Regions from separate parts of the Homo sapiens genome. Here region 2 is linked to region 1. Evidence: fine-mapped expression QTL. Tissue or cell type: whole blood. Region 1 holds a variant in brackets; the other region holds the start of a gene. All regions are shown on one strand. Distances are between the middles of the regions.

Region 1 (8,181 bases):
CCACCCAGTTGACTTCCATTTATGCTTTTTGACAAAAACTAGGTTACATGGGATCTAAGGAGCAGAGTATTTGAACACAAGACCATCACAAATACAATCAGGATTTTGCTAGTATAGAAGAAACAGAAACGAATATTGGCTGGGCTGGCCGAGCAGTGTCCCCCACAGTCACTCTGACACCATTTTGGCTCAAAAGCCCTTGCCAGCATCCCACTGTCCATTCCAGCACTGTCTAATAAAAATAGAACACAAACCACAAATGCAAGCTCTGGCTGTCCTTTAACATTCTCTAGTAGCCACATCAAAAAAGCAACAAGAGGCAGGGTGCAGTGGCTCACGCCTGTAATCCCAGCACTTTGGGAGGCCAAGGCAGGTGGATCACCTGAGGTCAGGAGTTCAAGACCAGCCTGGCCAACATGGGGAAACCCCCATCTCTACAAAAATACAAAAATTAGCCAGGCATGATGGCAGGTGCCTGTAATCCCAGCTCTCAGGAGGCTGAGGCAGGAGAATCGCTTGAACCTGGGAGGCAGAGGTTGCAGTAAGCTGAGATCACGCCACTGCACTCCAGCCTGGGCAACAGAGTGAGACTCCCTCTCAAAAAAAAAAAAAAGAAAAAAGAAAAAAGCAACAAGAATCAGGTGAAATGAATTTAAATACCTCATTTACTCTAATCTATCCAAAATATTATCATCTCATCATGTAATCAATCTTTTAAAATATTAATACGATTTTTTTCATGCCAAATCTTCAAAATCCAGTGTTTGTTTTTTTTCCACTTGCAGCACACTCCAATTCAGACTAACTTCATTTCAAGCCATTCATAGCCACCCGTGGCCAGTAGCTTCCATATTGGAGAGTACATATCTATACTTAGGCAATTGGTTCTCAGCTGGGTGTTTTTAAAAGTGCAGGGGAGTTGGGCTGCCTTTCGTTAGCAGAGATGATGAGGGTCTTGAGAGACCTTTGGTAATCACACAAGGCTTAGGACAGTCCCACTGACAATGAAGAATTGTTCTGCCTGAATGCTGATAATGCTTCTATTGAAAACCGCTGCTTTCATACATGCAAAGAGCTTAGAACAGTGCCTGGCTCACAATAAGCCCTGAATGCAAGATTATTATTATTATCGTTACTATGCAGTCAGGTCCAGACTTCATCTCCTAGCATATGAACGCTCCATAGTCTTACCCCAGTGCTTTTACCAAGAAACCACACACACACACACACACACACACACACACACACACACACACATACCCATAATAATACATATGGGCATATGGGTAGTTTCTATATCTTCTATGCCTATTATGTTTGTGCATGTGTGTGTACAGTGCCTGAGTGTATGTGTGTGTGTGTGAATATCTATCTATCTATCTATCTATCTATATATATATATATATATATATATCTTGGGGTCTTCATATATCTCATTTCATTGCTCTGCAAATCTACCTTGAGAATAGGAGAGTGTATTAGTCCATTTTTACACTGCTGATAAAGACGTACCCAAGACTGGGCAATTTACAAAAAAAGAGGTTTAATGGACTCACAATTCCATGTGGCTGGAGAGGCCTCACAATCATGGTGGGAGGTGAAAGGCACGTCTTATATGGCAGCAGACAAGAGAACTTGTGTTGGGAAACTCCCCTTTATAAAACCATCAGATCTTGTGAGACCTGTCCGCTATCATGAGAACAGCACACGAAAGACCTGCTCCCCTGATTCAATTATCTCCCACCAGGTCCCTCGCACAACACGTGGGAATCATAGGAGCTACAGTTCAAGATGAGATTTGAGTGGGGACACAGCCAAACCATATCAGAGAGTAACTATAATTAGTTCTGTTGTACAGATAAGAAAACTAAGGCCAGAGAAGTTAAGCTGCTTGCTTAAGTTCACACAGCAACTGAGGAAGAGCTACAATTTCAACCTTCTTTGCTAGAGATTAGAGTTTACTATCCATAAATCTGGAAGCCCTAGCAATACCAATGTTATAGGTATCATGACTGAAGCCAGCCCATCTTCCACTGCCAAAGACCTGCCAAGCTCTTCCTTGGGGGACACACCAGAAGAACAATTCTCCCTGTGCTTGGGCCCGAGGCTCACCATACGGTTTCACTCCTGTCCTAGAAATGAGCTTGGAGCCGGTGACAAAGAGAAACATCCCAGTGCAATTTCAGTCTCAACAATGACAACTGATGATGCACAATAGTGGGATCTGGCCTGTAATCAGTTTCAAGCTATACTTAGCCATTTAAGCGTCCATTCTGCTCACTCCAGAGAGTGTGCGGGAGAGTCACACACCCCTCAGCTTCAGCTTCTGGCTCATCACCGCAGAGCACCATGCGGAAAAAGGACCCCTTTGTGATAGCACCGTAAATTACAGCCCAGGCAATCTGGAGTCTCAGCTAGAGTGGATTCTTCTGTCTCCTAAAAGAAAAATCTGTTTTAGGCTTAATTACAGTCTGTCATTACCTGCAATCTTATAATGACCCAAAGTCCCTGGAAAATGATAATAATAATTAAAAAAAAAGAGAGAGAGAGAGAGAGAATCGATTCAAATATGAATGGAAAAAGCCAGACAAATGCAGGGCAGGGAAGTGCTGGTAGCATTCTTCAGAAACAACTGTGCCATGAGGATCAGAGCTTTACAATGGTAAATACTTATTCTGGCTCCGTTGTCAATTTACCAGGCCCAAGGGCTCAGTGTTAACTTTACTCACTTTCTGAATCTTTAATCTCGTTGCTGTAGAATTCACCTTATAAAATGCAGGAGCAGCTCCCAAGATAAATTGATGCTGAAAATCAGACGACTGAGATTTAATAGGACAATGCTTCTCAGATCCCGCGAGGACGCATTGAACATACGAAAAGTGTTCAGTGATTGCTCTTAGTATGTTAGTAAGGAGATGCTGAGGTTTATCAGAAGACGCCTTTTAAATCAAGTTTTCTTTGTCAGTTTTCACGGACAGGACTTTCAGGTGCAGCCGACCATTGGGAGCTCCCTCTTGTGGCCATATCAGGAATGGAAATGTATCTCTTCCCACCACCCGACTTAAACCTCCAAAAGCAAAACTGAGGCCAACTGACTCAAGCTGGTGAATCCGCGATTGCGTACTAGAGAAGGGGGCCTTAGGGAAGTCTCAAAATGCTACGCTTAAATTTTCCTGGAGTCCAGATGTCCTTCTGAATCCACTAAACCTTGTGAAGCGATGTGAACGTCAGG[T/A]AAAAATCCTTTCTTTTCCTGTTTAACTGCCTCGTTATTTATGGACACAATTACTTTATATTATATACAGATTATATAAAATAACTCGTTGATTATTTTTAATTTATTGCTTGTGAGAATTCCCTGTGCATCAAAGAAGCCTTTTAAGCCGATTTTGCTTCCACAACAAGATTCTCGGGTGGATTCAGTTTACCGGAATTAACATCGACGCATTGACGTGACATTCAGTTGGGAACATGGAGCTGACTGTGTTTAGAGAGAGCTGAGCAAGTTCCCTAGGCAGGTTCCTTTTACTGTAATGGTCCCTGGGTCACAATGAGAACTTGGCCACCATCCCATGCAACTCCTCCTTTTCTTTCCGTTGCACTCTGGTTTCAGGAAGGAAATGATGACATGACTTACCCATCAGCCCTGTTTCCTGATTTTGAAACCACAGGGAATCTGCTCAATTGTAGGAACCAGGTTAGGAAAAGACTGAGTTAGAAATCATTACATTGTGAATAACAGAAAACTCAAACCAGTTTAAATAGCATATGGAATATATAGGGGCAGGTAATGACAAGTCTAGAGGTAGGCTTCAAGTAAGGCTTGATCCAGTAGATCAGGACTATTGCCAAGGACCCCACTTCTCTCCATGTCTTCTCTCTTTCTTCTAAGGTATAGCAGACCCTGTCTGTGCTCTGACCATTTCCCTGCAGCCTATCCTGAAGATCACTTGCAGACATTTCCTGTATACTTCAAAGATTGCCTGCATCTTTCTGTCTGAGGGCATTCCCTGTTCCTGGTGGTGTACACCCAAGCTGGAAATACCAGAAAGTTAACACCCCAAGATTGACCCTCAATACTAAGGAATAAAAGTTAGTTAATAAATATCCCAGGTTCCTTACACAGGGACAGTAAGGAGATATGCTGCACAGTATTTCTCAAGGTATTTCCCAAGACACTGAATCCATGTCCCCCATGGTGGCCTCATTAATTCACCCTTTACTGGCTTCCATTTGTTCCCTGTCTCACTTCCCTGCTCTCTCAAAGTGTTCCCTGCAATTCCTGTGCCCCCAAACCATTTGCATGCAGTCCTTCTCAGGGTCTCCTTTTCGGGGTAACTCAGGGTAAGAACAAAGTGCACCGCTTCCAGAAGGGAGCCATGAGTGTTGGACAACCAGCCACAGATGTCATCCTATTGAGAAATCCTAAAGACACGCCCAGGTCAGAGAAGCCAGCAGACTTCCCTTCTGGATATGGGGCATTTTACCAAAGGAAACCAGTGAGTCCGAGTAGATCTGAATCTGTGGCAAAATTGCCAGCATTTCAGCTGTGAAAAGCACACAGGATGCTAAAACCATCTCATTCTCTGGTGGGCGGTGGGTGGCGAATGGTGGGAGGAATGATGGGGAAAGGGAAGACTGTTCATTTTATTCACAGGGAAAATTAGAGACAACAACCATGGAGAATGGGTTCCAAATGCCATCCTACCCCCATCCTTGTCTCTTCATCTGAGGTTTTTCTGATTTTTCTGACTCCTCCAGAATTCACTGACCTCCCACGCCAACAACGAACCATCCCTCACAATTTAGACAAGTGCTGCCAACAGAAATAGAATGTGAACCACATATGCAAACCACCACATGCAACTTACAATTTCCTGGTGTCTACATTAAATGAGGGGAAAGAAACAGATGAAATTAACTTTAACAATGTACTTTATTTAACTCAGTAGATCACAAATATCCTTTCGATATGAAATTAATATAAAAATTATTAATAGGATATTTATATTATTTAAAAAAATCAAGTCTGTGAAAGCTGATGTGTGTTTTACACTTACAGCACATTTCAGCTCAGACTAGCCACATTTTACATGCTCAGTAACAGCAGGTAGTTAGTAGCTACTGTGTTGGACAGCACAGATTTATTTATTCATGTATTTATTTATTTTTGAGACAGGGTCTTGCCCTGTCACTGAGGCTGGAGTTAGTGGTGCAAATATAGGTCAGTGCAGCCCCAAAGTCTTGGGTTCAAGCAATCCTTCTGCCTCGGTTTCCTGAGTAGCTGGGACTAAAGGTGTGCACCATCAAGTCCAGTTAATTTTTTATTTTTGTAGAGATGGGATTGTGGTTATGTTACCCAGGCTGGACTTGAACTCCTGACCTCAAGCAATCCTCCTACCTTGGCCTATTAAACTGCTGGGATTACAGGCATGAGCCACTGTGCCCAGCCAGGTAGCATAGATTTATAGCATACCTTGTTACTATGTGTGTATTGAGCTTTTGAATTTCAAAATGCTTTCACATGCATATTATCATCTGGTCAATATTCCTAACAGGCAGACCTATGTGGTATTATCATCCCTGTATTGGTAATGCCTTAGGGGAGGTTAAGCTATTTTATCCTCTTTAGGGGTAGCAGGGCTGGGACTAGAGCTGGACTCCAGTGCTGGGCGCCTTCTACCACACCTTAGGTATTTCATTTGGGTCCACGACATCATCTTTTTTATCATCTTCAACATCTGGTATTAGCTAGACAGGCTTGTTGATTCACAGATAATATTAATTAGGATTTGTTTGGCCACAAATGACAGAGACTTGATTCAAACTGGCTTAACTATAAATAACAGAGGTGTTGGGGAGTGAAATGTTAGTTTGTAAAATGAATGCACGTGGTTTCAGGAATGGCTGGATCAAGGGAGAAATGGATATTTCCTGACGCATGGCTCTGCTTTTGTCTGTGCTTAGTAGATCTTAGGCAGCATCTCCACACAAGATAGCTAAGAGGATCTCCAACCTGCCAGCTTGGAGTCCTCGATGGAAAAAGAATACCTCTTTCCCAAAGCTCCAGCCAATGTCCTGGGGAAGGAGCTCATTGATGGGGCTTGGGTCCATGCCCATCCATGAACCAGTCATTGTACATCGTCACTAAGTCCCATGTCCACCCCAGCAACCATGAAAGCAACACAGTATCAAGGGTGGTCCCCCAAAGAAAGGGGAAATAATGGATCCCGGGCAAGCAGAAACCACAGATGTCTTCCCTGCCAATCCTGCATGCCTGTCTTTGGATTTTGTAATTAGAAATGAGGTTTGTTTGTTTGTTTTTTCCTGATCAGGTCCATCCTTTAATCAAGCCTGGATAGGCATCCTGGGAAGCGCAGAGCCTGTGTTCTAGTGTGGTCCATGCACACTCCTCTAGCGGCCAGATGTTCTCCACAATCGCACATAGCTTCCAAATCCCCGCTTGGCTCCAGAGCTGGAGTCCATTGCACACACCTGACAACACTTCTGGGAACATCCTTCAGAAAGGACACTATACCAGCGCAGGCCAGATGATGGCACACTTTTTGTTTTTTGTTTTTTTGAGAGGGAGTCAGTCTCGCTCTGTTGCCCAGATGGCTGGAGTGCAGTGGCACGATCTCGGCTCACTGCAATCTCTGCCTCCTGGGTTCAAGCAATTCTCCTGCCTCAGCCTCCTGAGTAGCTGGGACTACAGGCATGCACCACCATGCCCAGCTAATTTTTGTATTTTTGGTAGAGATGGAGTGTCACCATGTTGGCCAGGCTGGTCTCAAACTCCTGACCTCAGGCGATTCGCCAGCCTCAGCCTCCCAAAGTGCTGAGATTACAGACATGAGCCACCGCACCCAGCCTGATGACACACTTTGGATAAATGTCCTGGTGATACCTCTATACCCATTTCCACCTTCTCCAGCCCTTCACCCTGACACAGGCCTGGTTCCAGGGCCACACAGTGCCCAAGCAAGGAGGATACCTGCAGATGGCCTCAAGTGGGGGACTCTGCCTGTGCTCCATGTTGCTTTCCTTGATAAATGGACCCTGGAATTACTCTAAGGGGCCCAGATAGATTAGTAAGGATCTCTTTGAGCTCCACGTACTCTTAAAAAGAATTAAACTCATTTAAGGAAAAAGGTAATTATTGGCTCAAATAACTGAAAAATCTAAAGTAGGCACAGCTAAACACGGGGCTCAAATGATTGCCACCAAATCTTTCCTCTCTTTTCCACTTCCCTCCCTTCCCCCCTCCCTCTCCTTCCCTCCCTTCCCCTCTTTTCCCTCTCCCTTCTCCTTCTTTTTCCTGTCCCCTCTCCTCCTCTACCCTCCTTTTCTCTTCTTTTCTCTTCCTTGTATGCATGGACCACACTGGAACACAGACTTTGCCCTTCCCAGGACCCCCAACCAGGCTTGAGTTAAATGATGGGCCTGATCAGAAAAAAAAACTCATTTCTAATTACAAAATTCAAAGACAGATGCGGGATTGGCAGAGAAGACATCTGTGGTTTCTGCTTGCCTGGGACCCGTTACTTCTCCTTTCTTTGGGGGACCACCCTTGACACTGTGTTTACTTTCATGGTTGCAGGGGTGGACACGGGACTTAGTGATAGTGCACAGTGACTGGTTCAGGGATGGGCATGGACCCAAGCCCCATCAATGAGCTCCTTCCCCAGGACGTATGCTTCCTCTCTCCTCCCCTTCCCTCTCCTCTCTTCCCCTCCCCTCTCCTCTCCTTTCATCTTTTCTCTCCTTCCCTTCCCTATCCTACTTTTCCTTCCTTTCCCTCTCCTGTCCCCTCTCCTCCCCGCTTTCTTCTCTTCCCCTCCCCTCCCTCTCCTGTCCCCCTCCTCCCCCTTCCTTCTCCTTCCCTCCCCTCTTACATTCTCTCCCCTCCCCTCAAGATCCCCTCCTCTTCTCTGCCTTCTCCTCCCCTCCCCTCCCTCTCCTTCCCCCTTCTCCTTTTGTCTTGCCTCCCTTCTTTTCCCTTTCTCTCCTATCTTCTGTTTTGTCTTCCTCCCTTCCCTTCCTGTTTTAGTCTGTTTTGTGCTGCTATAACAGAATAGTTATCATAGAATACCTGAGATTGGGTAATTAATAAAGAACAGAAATTTATTTCTCATAGCTATGGAGGCTGGAAAGTCCAAGATCAAGGTGCTGGCATCTCATGAG
Region 2 (8,181 bases), 66 kb after region 1:
CTTAGGATGACAACTGCGGGTCCCCGGCCTGCCAGGCCGTCATCAGCCCCACTCAGCCACTGTGAGCGCGGCAGTTCAGCAGGGAGTGCAACTTCCTTCCACCCCCTGCTGCCTGGCTGATTGGCAGCCAGCGGGGCTGGAGGGGAGCAGCTCGTGCTGACTGTTTGCCGCTGGGCAGGGAGGGCTTGGCAGGGGTGGCCGTGAGAGGACCTGGGAGCTCAGGGGTCTAAGAGACACAGAGGATTCCCTGAGTCAGGAACCCGGCCAGAATCCCCCATCTGCCCCTCTGGTATCTGGCTGCTGGCCCTCTGTAGGGAAATGATGGATGAGGTCCTTCCCAGAGAACCTCTAGGTAGGGGGAGGAGAGAGAAGCTTATCTTCTACAGAATTGAGGCCAGTGGTTCAGGGGACCTCAGGTCTCAGGCCTCTGCAGGAGGCCTGGCTGTGGCACTCACCAGGACCTGCAGTCTCCTGATCCTGGTTAAAACCAAGAGCAAATGAAGTAGTTTAGCAGCCAGGCTATAGGGGCTCCTGGCAGGACCTGTCAAAATGGCCCTCCTGGCTCATATAGAGCTAATTAATAAATATATGTACACACACACACACACACACACACACACACACACACACCATTATAAACCACAGTCATTATGAATCATTTTCTGCCCAGATTGAGTTTCTTAATTGAGGCAGGAGAAAAGTCACTGGGGAAAAAAAATGGCCATGAATATTGCCCCAACTATATAGTTCAGAGAGAAGCCCGGCCAAAATCTCTACTGGAGATTTGCTTAGTTTCCTTTAATGAGAACTCCAACAGCCCGAATTTTGCTTGGGCAGCCAGAATTTGAACTGAAATACTGTCTGGAGAAGTCACATCAAAAGCTTTAGGGCTTTCCCGCGTGTCTGGGGCTGCCGAGACCTGGCCAGAGTCTTCATGCAAGTAAGTATAGAACCCATAATGAGAGCTTAGGTTGCTAACAATAAGTTCAAATCATCCTTTCTTTCCCAATCTCTCCAGAGATTTTTTGTTTGTTTGTTTTCATCAGTCTGTGCTGGCTCAAGTTTTTAGATTAAGCTATTTTGGAGTTTCCATGTCTAAAACCCTCTCAAACTTTTAAAAGTGAAAAGCATCACTCAAAAGCAACTAAGTACTTTCTTCTAACACTATAGGTGCACATAAATAAATCAATAAAACTGGTCCCGGGGCTATGAATATATATGGAAAAATTAGGTCCCTAGAGATCAGTTTTCAGAAAGCCAAGGGGATGTGAAAATAGAGGCTAAAGCAAACGTCTCAATACTTTGTAACAGGGTGGCACATTTAAGACAAGGGCACCAGGTTTTAAAATGATCCTGTGCAAATGGACTGTCGGATGGGACATTTAATGTACTGCTTTTATCAGGGATAAAGATAGTTGGTGTATGGGTTTATTTCTTCTTTGAAAAAAGTTAACCACAATATAATTAGCTCTCTTTTTTGTCAGTCTGGGCTGCTGTTGATGAGGTGTCTAGAGGCCTTCTGGTATAGGTGCCTAAAAGCTTAAACTGCATTTAATTATTATTATTACTCAATGTCAGGCTACATAAATGAAAAGAGATAAAAAAGAATTGCTTGCAGCTACATTGCCTTGGTTTGTGATTTCATCACATCTCACAAGCGAAGCAGGTTTGAGCTGGCACTTGGGGCATGAAACCTCTAAGGAAAACCCAGGCAGCTAGAGATGCTGTTTCAACCGAGTTGAAAGTCTCCCCACATGCTGGGGAGGGTAGAGGCTTGCCACACTTTGATTTTGCTCCCCAGCTTTATTTTTAAATACCGTAATAACTGTCTGACTTATTTCGGAGAAGGAAAGCAAATAGGGGAAATGGAGTCACAGGGAGAGTGGTCTTAAAGGCACATAGTCTGGAATGCGAAGATTTCTTGGCTCCCAACGCTCATTGATTGTCTGTCCTGCTGCCTGAAATACCAGTGAGGGCGCCAAAGGAGCAGTGGTATATCATGAAGGGCTCAGCTAACTGTGGAAACTGGAATGGGCTTTCCCACCTGAATGCAGGCAGAGAGCAAGGTGCAGACAAGGAGGCTTGAAAGGCAGATGGACCAAGTTCTGCCCACTTTTCCTACAGTCTATTTATCCACAGGTCAGGATGAAAACAGATGGTTTGCCAGAGGGCAATATATTGGCAGACAGTACCTTGCTTTTTAGGCATGAGACGTCAGGCTTAGGAACAAGTGCTTGGCACTGAGTTAATTAACTCTAGACATTCAGCTCAAGGATGACCTTCTTTCTAGCTCCTTAGATTAAAAAGATAATGAGTTAGGCAGCCCAGAATGGTCAGAAGACCAGAAGCTTTAGCTGCATTCTAGCCCCACCTTTTTTTCTGCTGTTCTCTAGCACCTTAGTTTGCAAGCCCCCTAGGACAGGGACCATGGTGTGCAATGTTATTGAACTTCCCCAGGATGAGTGCTGCAGTTGTATACAACAGGCAGAAAACCAATGTGCTGACTAGTATACTGGTTCCTTTTCTTAGCTCCTGGCCAGCCAGTCCGTTGTAAAATTTTCTTTAGATTATGATGCCAGGGACTATTGCTTTTTGAAGGGCTGCCAGGGAGAGTTCAAGCCATTCAGGCCCTTCATCAGTTGTGTCACCATCCATTTCAGTTACCTGTTGATACCTAGCAAATCGCCCTAAAACTTAGTGGCTTAAACTACAACTACTTATTTAGTATGTGATGCTGTGAGTCAGCTAGTTGAGCAAGGCTCAGCTGGATGGTTCTTCGGCTGGTCTCAGCTGGGCTCACTCATGTGCTTGTCATCAGCTGTGCGGGTGGGGGTGGGGGGGCGTGGAGGGGGCGGCAGGCAATGGCCTCACTCACACATCTGGTGATGGTTGACTGTTGGTTGGGAATCCTACCTTAACCAGCAAGCTATTCGGAGCTTATTTACATGGTTTCCAAGAGCAGAAGCAAGAGTTAAATCCTAATGCACAATTGCTTTAAAAGCCTTTTTTTTTCTTTTTTTTTTTTTTTTTTTCTGGTAACACATGTACAAACGTTGCTTTGGTCAAAGCAAGTTACATGACTGAGCACAGAGTGAAAGAGACAGTGGCAGGGCAAGGGACAAAGAAGGGGAATGATTGCTGCCATTTTGCAAACAGTCTATCATGTGCAAAACAAGGCCAAGAACAAACTTTCAAGGTGATACTTCATTCTTAGATTTCCAAGATGCTAGAGCCAGAAGTCCTAGTTGAGTCCCTGTTTCTCCACGTTTCAGGCCTCAGTTTCCCCATCTAATAAATGAGGATAACATCCATTTCACAGGGTTGATCCAGGATCAACAGGGGCTAAAAATTATAAATAAATGTTGGTAATGATGCTTCCACAACTGTACAATGGGTTCACAACTTCTCAACCTACTTGCTCATCTCCACACACAGCGTTTCTGCGAGTACAGAGGGCTCACTATTGATAGTGGTCCAAGAGGGGATTTTAGGTGTCACAGGAACAGCACCTTGAATACGATTGACTTATGTGTGTGATTCACCTTCCCTCTGTCATTCTCTTTCAGTCTTTCCTCTTAGGAGAAGTCTCAGCTTAATGCCAATGCCTTCCCCTTTTGCTAATTATTTTATTTTTTGTAAAGAGGGGGTGTGTCACTTTGTGGCCGAGGCTGCTCTTGAACTCCTGTCCTCAAGGGATCCTCCTGCCTCAGCCTCCCAAGGTGCTGGGATTACAGGCATGAGCCATGGAATGCCACCAGTGCCAATTTGTCTTTGACACCTCTCTCAACCCATGCTAACCATCTCCCTCAGAGTTTTTGGCCCTATTTAGAATTGAATAATGCTTTATTTTCAATTTTTACATTTGCTTTCTATTAATGACAAATGATACGTTAAAAAATATATAAGCAAGCACTAATAGTTTAAAAAACAATGCTAAGTATATAATAAAACGTGGTTCATTCATTCTTGCGTTCAACAAATATTCGTCCAATAAATATATGTAGAGCATCTCCTATGGGCCAGGATCTTGCCAAAGGCACATCTGCGAACCAAGGAAACCCCTGCCCTCGGGGAGCTTGCATTCTAGGCGTGGGAGTCGTGATGGTGGTCGGAGAAGGACTGGATTTGGGGATTTGCTTCTTGCGGGGGACACAGGCCTGCCCGTGGGGCCCGCCTCCCGCGCGGAGAGCGCTGAGGGGTCCGGAGTGACCTGTAGGCTGAGACCCTGGCTTCCCCTTGCCTAGAGGCCGGGCAGGAGGCGCGGAGCCCGAGGTCGCGGGGCTGAGGGCGCGGGGCGGGCCCGGCGGGGCTCGGCTGCGGCCCGGGCTGTGTCTGCGGCCCCGGCGGCCGCGCCCCTCCTCCCTTTCCCTCCGGCGGAGGCTGACGTGGAGTCAACAGCGCTGGCGGCCGCGAGAGGCGGCGGCGCAGCGGCTCGGAGGCGCCGGGCCCTCTCGGGGCCGCGCGGGGCCCGGGCGGCGGCGGCGACGCGACGTCGCGAGGAGGAGGAGGCGGCGGGGGTCCAGGAGGCCGGCCAGCGCATGGAGGAGGAGGCCATGAACGGCGACCGGACTGAGAGCGACTGGCAGGGGCTGGTGAGCGAGGTGAGGCCGCGGCGCCGGCCAGGCGGGATGGGCCGGGCCGAGCGGCCGCCAGCCCCGGGCCCGCGCCCCCAGAGAGGCCGAGCTGGGAGGGACGAGAGGGGGGCGCGCACTCCAAGTGGCCGCGGCTGCCGCACCCGCGCGACCCCGCCAGGTGCGCCGCTCCTCCTGCACTTTCGGGTCTGCGCGGGCGCCACTTTCTTCCGCGCCATCTGGTGTCAGCCTTTGGGGAGGGGCCTTCCCCCCAAGGCAGGGGTTGGCCCTGGATTGGAGGCTGAAGCCCTGGGATCCGGGAGCAGAAGGTGCCAAGCCCCACCTGCCTGCCCGCTCGCCACTGTTGTGGAGCCAAACAATTGGACGCCTGGGACTGAAACGGGAAGGTGGTGCCATGGGGGAGAATCCGAGCCCTGGGGTGGAACCTGGGCCAGGTGGAATTACCTGCGGCGGTGGTTCGAGTTGGGGGAGTTCGGGGGTCCGCTGCAGCCGTTCACTCATTCACTTGCTCAATTCAATCAACACGTGTTTACTGCAGGCCTACCATGTGTAAGGTGGGGAGGGGCATTTATCGAAAAAGTGAAACACAGGTGCAGAAGTGATTCGATTTGTGGAAGCACAGAACACCGTGTCCCCCTGCCCTGCGACTCTTTTGTCATAAACATACCCTGGGGGTCCACTTTCAGGATCCTATGCTGTTTGCTCTTCAGTTCCCCCTAAGAGTTTGCCGGCCTGCCGGGAGAAGCTGCCGGCCTCTCCAGGTGAGAGGGAATGCGGATTTCTCCCTCTCACCTGGAGGCAACCAGGTAAGTTGCCCTGGTTTGCCACCATTTGTGGGGGCAATTCCTGGTGTTACTTACCCATGCCGGGGAATTTCTCCCTTCTGAGAACCAAGCTCCAGCCAAGGCCAACTTGGGGCTTCCTTTTCTTTAATCCTGTGCACACAATGCAGAGTGTATCGGTTTGCTCTTTTCCTTTCCTTGTGGGTTATGGGAAGGGAAACCCTCTACTCCCTCACTCCTTTCATCGTTTTCTGGGTCTCCAGGTCAGTCTGATAATAGTGCTTCATGCCCAGTGTGTGCAGAGCGTTGTGTTTCTGAAGAGGAATGACATGCGGTAGCTCCTGCCCTAGTTTAGTTTGCTCAGCATTGGTCTAGTAGTTGAAAGCTCTCCTAACTGTCTGGTGTTATGATCCATTGTATTGCAGCCTGGCTCCATCTTCTCAAACTGTCAGGCTTTATGTTAAGGGGCAGATCCTCTGGGGACCTTGTTTCTGGTCCCATCAAGAATCATACTTAGTAGTCAAGGAGGCTGGAGGTAGTTCTCCTTAGAAGTCCAGTGTTAGGCCCTTAAATAGCAGCAGAATCTTCACTACTCCAACAATTGCATATCAGGTGCCTGTTAGGAGTCAGTACATTGTGAGGTGCTTGGGATTCAGTGGTGAATAAGACAAAGAACTCCCCTACCCTCAAAGAACTCCTGGGGGTTTCATGATATAGTCTGGGAGGAAGGTCATACCGTAGACAGTGAGAGTGAACTAAAGGATGGAAAGGCTTCAAGTGCTAAATGGCATGGGGTGCCCCTCAGTTGGCTGGGCTTAACCTTCACCTTGCCCTGACCACATTATTGTAACAATAGGCTTCCTCACTAGGCCGTGTGCTTTGTTTGGTTCTTTATTCCAGGGCCTATACACAGAGCTCTGTATGCAGCAGGTGCTCGAAAAATGCTTGTTGAATAAGTCAGTGAATCCTGAAGTAGGTCCTTCAGGAGTTTTCCTGCCCATCCCAGCAGAGTTTCTCCAGAGTAATACCTCCTTAACTTCACAAACATGAGGTGGGCACGTAGCCAGGGGCCATGGGGGAGGTGAAAATGGGTCTAACTTACTTCCCACCTTAATAATAACTAATGACTATTTTTTGAGTGCATCCTTCATATTAAGCATTTTACATGGCCTCATATTCACAATGACATAAGGTAGGAATTCTTTCTTATTTTACAGATAAGGAAACAGTGGCTCAGACAGGCTAAGGAACTTGCACAGAGCCTCACATCTGGTAAGTGGAAGAGGCAGGATTTGAATCCTGGTCTGTCTGACTCATTGCTTGAGCCTTGCTTGTCTGAGCCTTGCTAGGCCACACTTGCTATTTTAATCATTGCTCATCTGTCTGTATCTTCTGCTAGATGGCAGGCTTCCCAAGGAAGGAGACCATGTCTGATTCAACTTTGAGTCCGCAGCAAATGGCTTGGTGTTTCTTAGAGTATGGCCTACAGATCACCTGCATCAGAGTCATTTTGGGTGCCTGTGAAAAATTCAAGTTTATGGGTCTCTCCCAAATTTACTGTAGTGAGTTGAATTATGTATCCTGCTCCCCCCACCTCCCCACCATAGCTGCATCCGAGACCTAACCCCAGTAGCTGCAAATGTGACTTTATTTGGAAATAGGGCCTTTGCAGATATGATCAAGTTAAGGATCTTTAGATGAGATCACCCTGGATTTAGGGTAGGTCCTAAATCTAATGACTGATACCTTAGAAGAGAAAGGACAGAGATTTAAGCCACAGACACACAAGGGAGCAGGCTATGGGAAGACGGAGATGCATGAAAGGAAGACCATGTGAAGACAAAGGTAGAGATTGGAGTGATGCAGCCACATGGCAAGGCATGCCAGAGGTCGCTGGCAGCTCCCAGAAGCTGGAAGAGGCAGATTCTCCCTCAAAGTCCCCAGAAAAAAACAACTGTTGACACCTTGCTTTTGGACTTCCGGCCTCTATAACTGTGAGTGAATACACTCCTGTTGTTTTAAGCCACCCCGTTTATGATCATTTGTTACAGCAATGTATTAGTCCGTTTTCATGCTGCTTATAAAGACATACCTGAGACTGGGTGATTTACAAAAGAAAGAGAGATTTCATGGGCCTGCTGTTCCACATGACTGGGGAGGCCTCACAATCATGCTGGAAGGCAAGGAGGAGCAAGTAACATCTTACATGGATGGCAGCAGGCAAGGAGGAGCAAGTAACATCTTACATGGATGGCAGCAGGCAAAGAGAGAGAGCTTCTGCAGGAGAACTCCTCTTTATAAAACCATCAGATCTCGTGAGACTTATTCACTATCACGAGAACATTATGGAGGAAACTAGCCCCATGATTCAATTATCTCCCACCAGGTCCCTCCCACAACATGTGGGAGTTATGGGAATGCAATTCAAGGTGAGATTTGAGTGGGGACACAGAGCCAAACCATATCAAGCAGCCACAAGAAACTAATACACCTACTGCTGAAAAGTGCCTGGGGTTGCAGCCCCCTGATCTGCCTTTCTTACAAGCTGAGCTGCCCAGGTAATTCCCCTGCCCAGTCAAGTTTGGCTGGCAGGGGTTCCATGGGTGTGACTGGGTCTGGTACCAGACAGGTAAGATTCAGGGAAGAGTGTGCTCAGCAGCTGTGGTGTTACGAAATGGTTTGGGGACCTGGCAGAAGGACCTGTGGAAGACATCACTGCACAGCTAATCTGGACTACATGGGATTTTCGTGGGCTTGCATTTATTTCTGCAGAAGTCCTGGGTGCTGTCTCCCACCCTGGATCCCCT

The links. PIP is the estimated chance that this variant, and not a neighbour inherited with it, causes the effect.
Region 2: it holds the start of CCDC149, and the variant in region 1 is fine-mapped to the expression of CCDC149 in whole blood (TOPMed, PIP 0.95).

Annotation. Positions count from the first base shown.
Region 1 is chr4:24,975,119-24,983,299 of GRCh38, reverse strand. It overlaps LOC102723675 (a long non-coding RNA gene), which reads right to left and starts at 3,482. Exons shown (of 6, transcript XR_007058082.1): 1 at 2,730-3,482. It also overlaps a transcript of CCDC149 not described here. The variant T/A (reference allele first, on the strand shown) is at 3,233.
Region 2 is chr4:24,909,237-24,917,417 of GRCh38, reverse strand. CCDC149 (coiled-coil domain containing 149) reads left to right here and starts at 4,376. Exons shown (of 13, transcript NM_001395273.1): 1 at 4,376-4,601. The coding sequence starts at 4,554. RefSeq lists enhancers at 1-9, 10-579.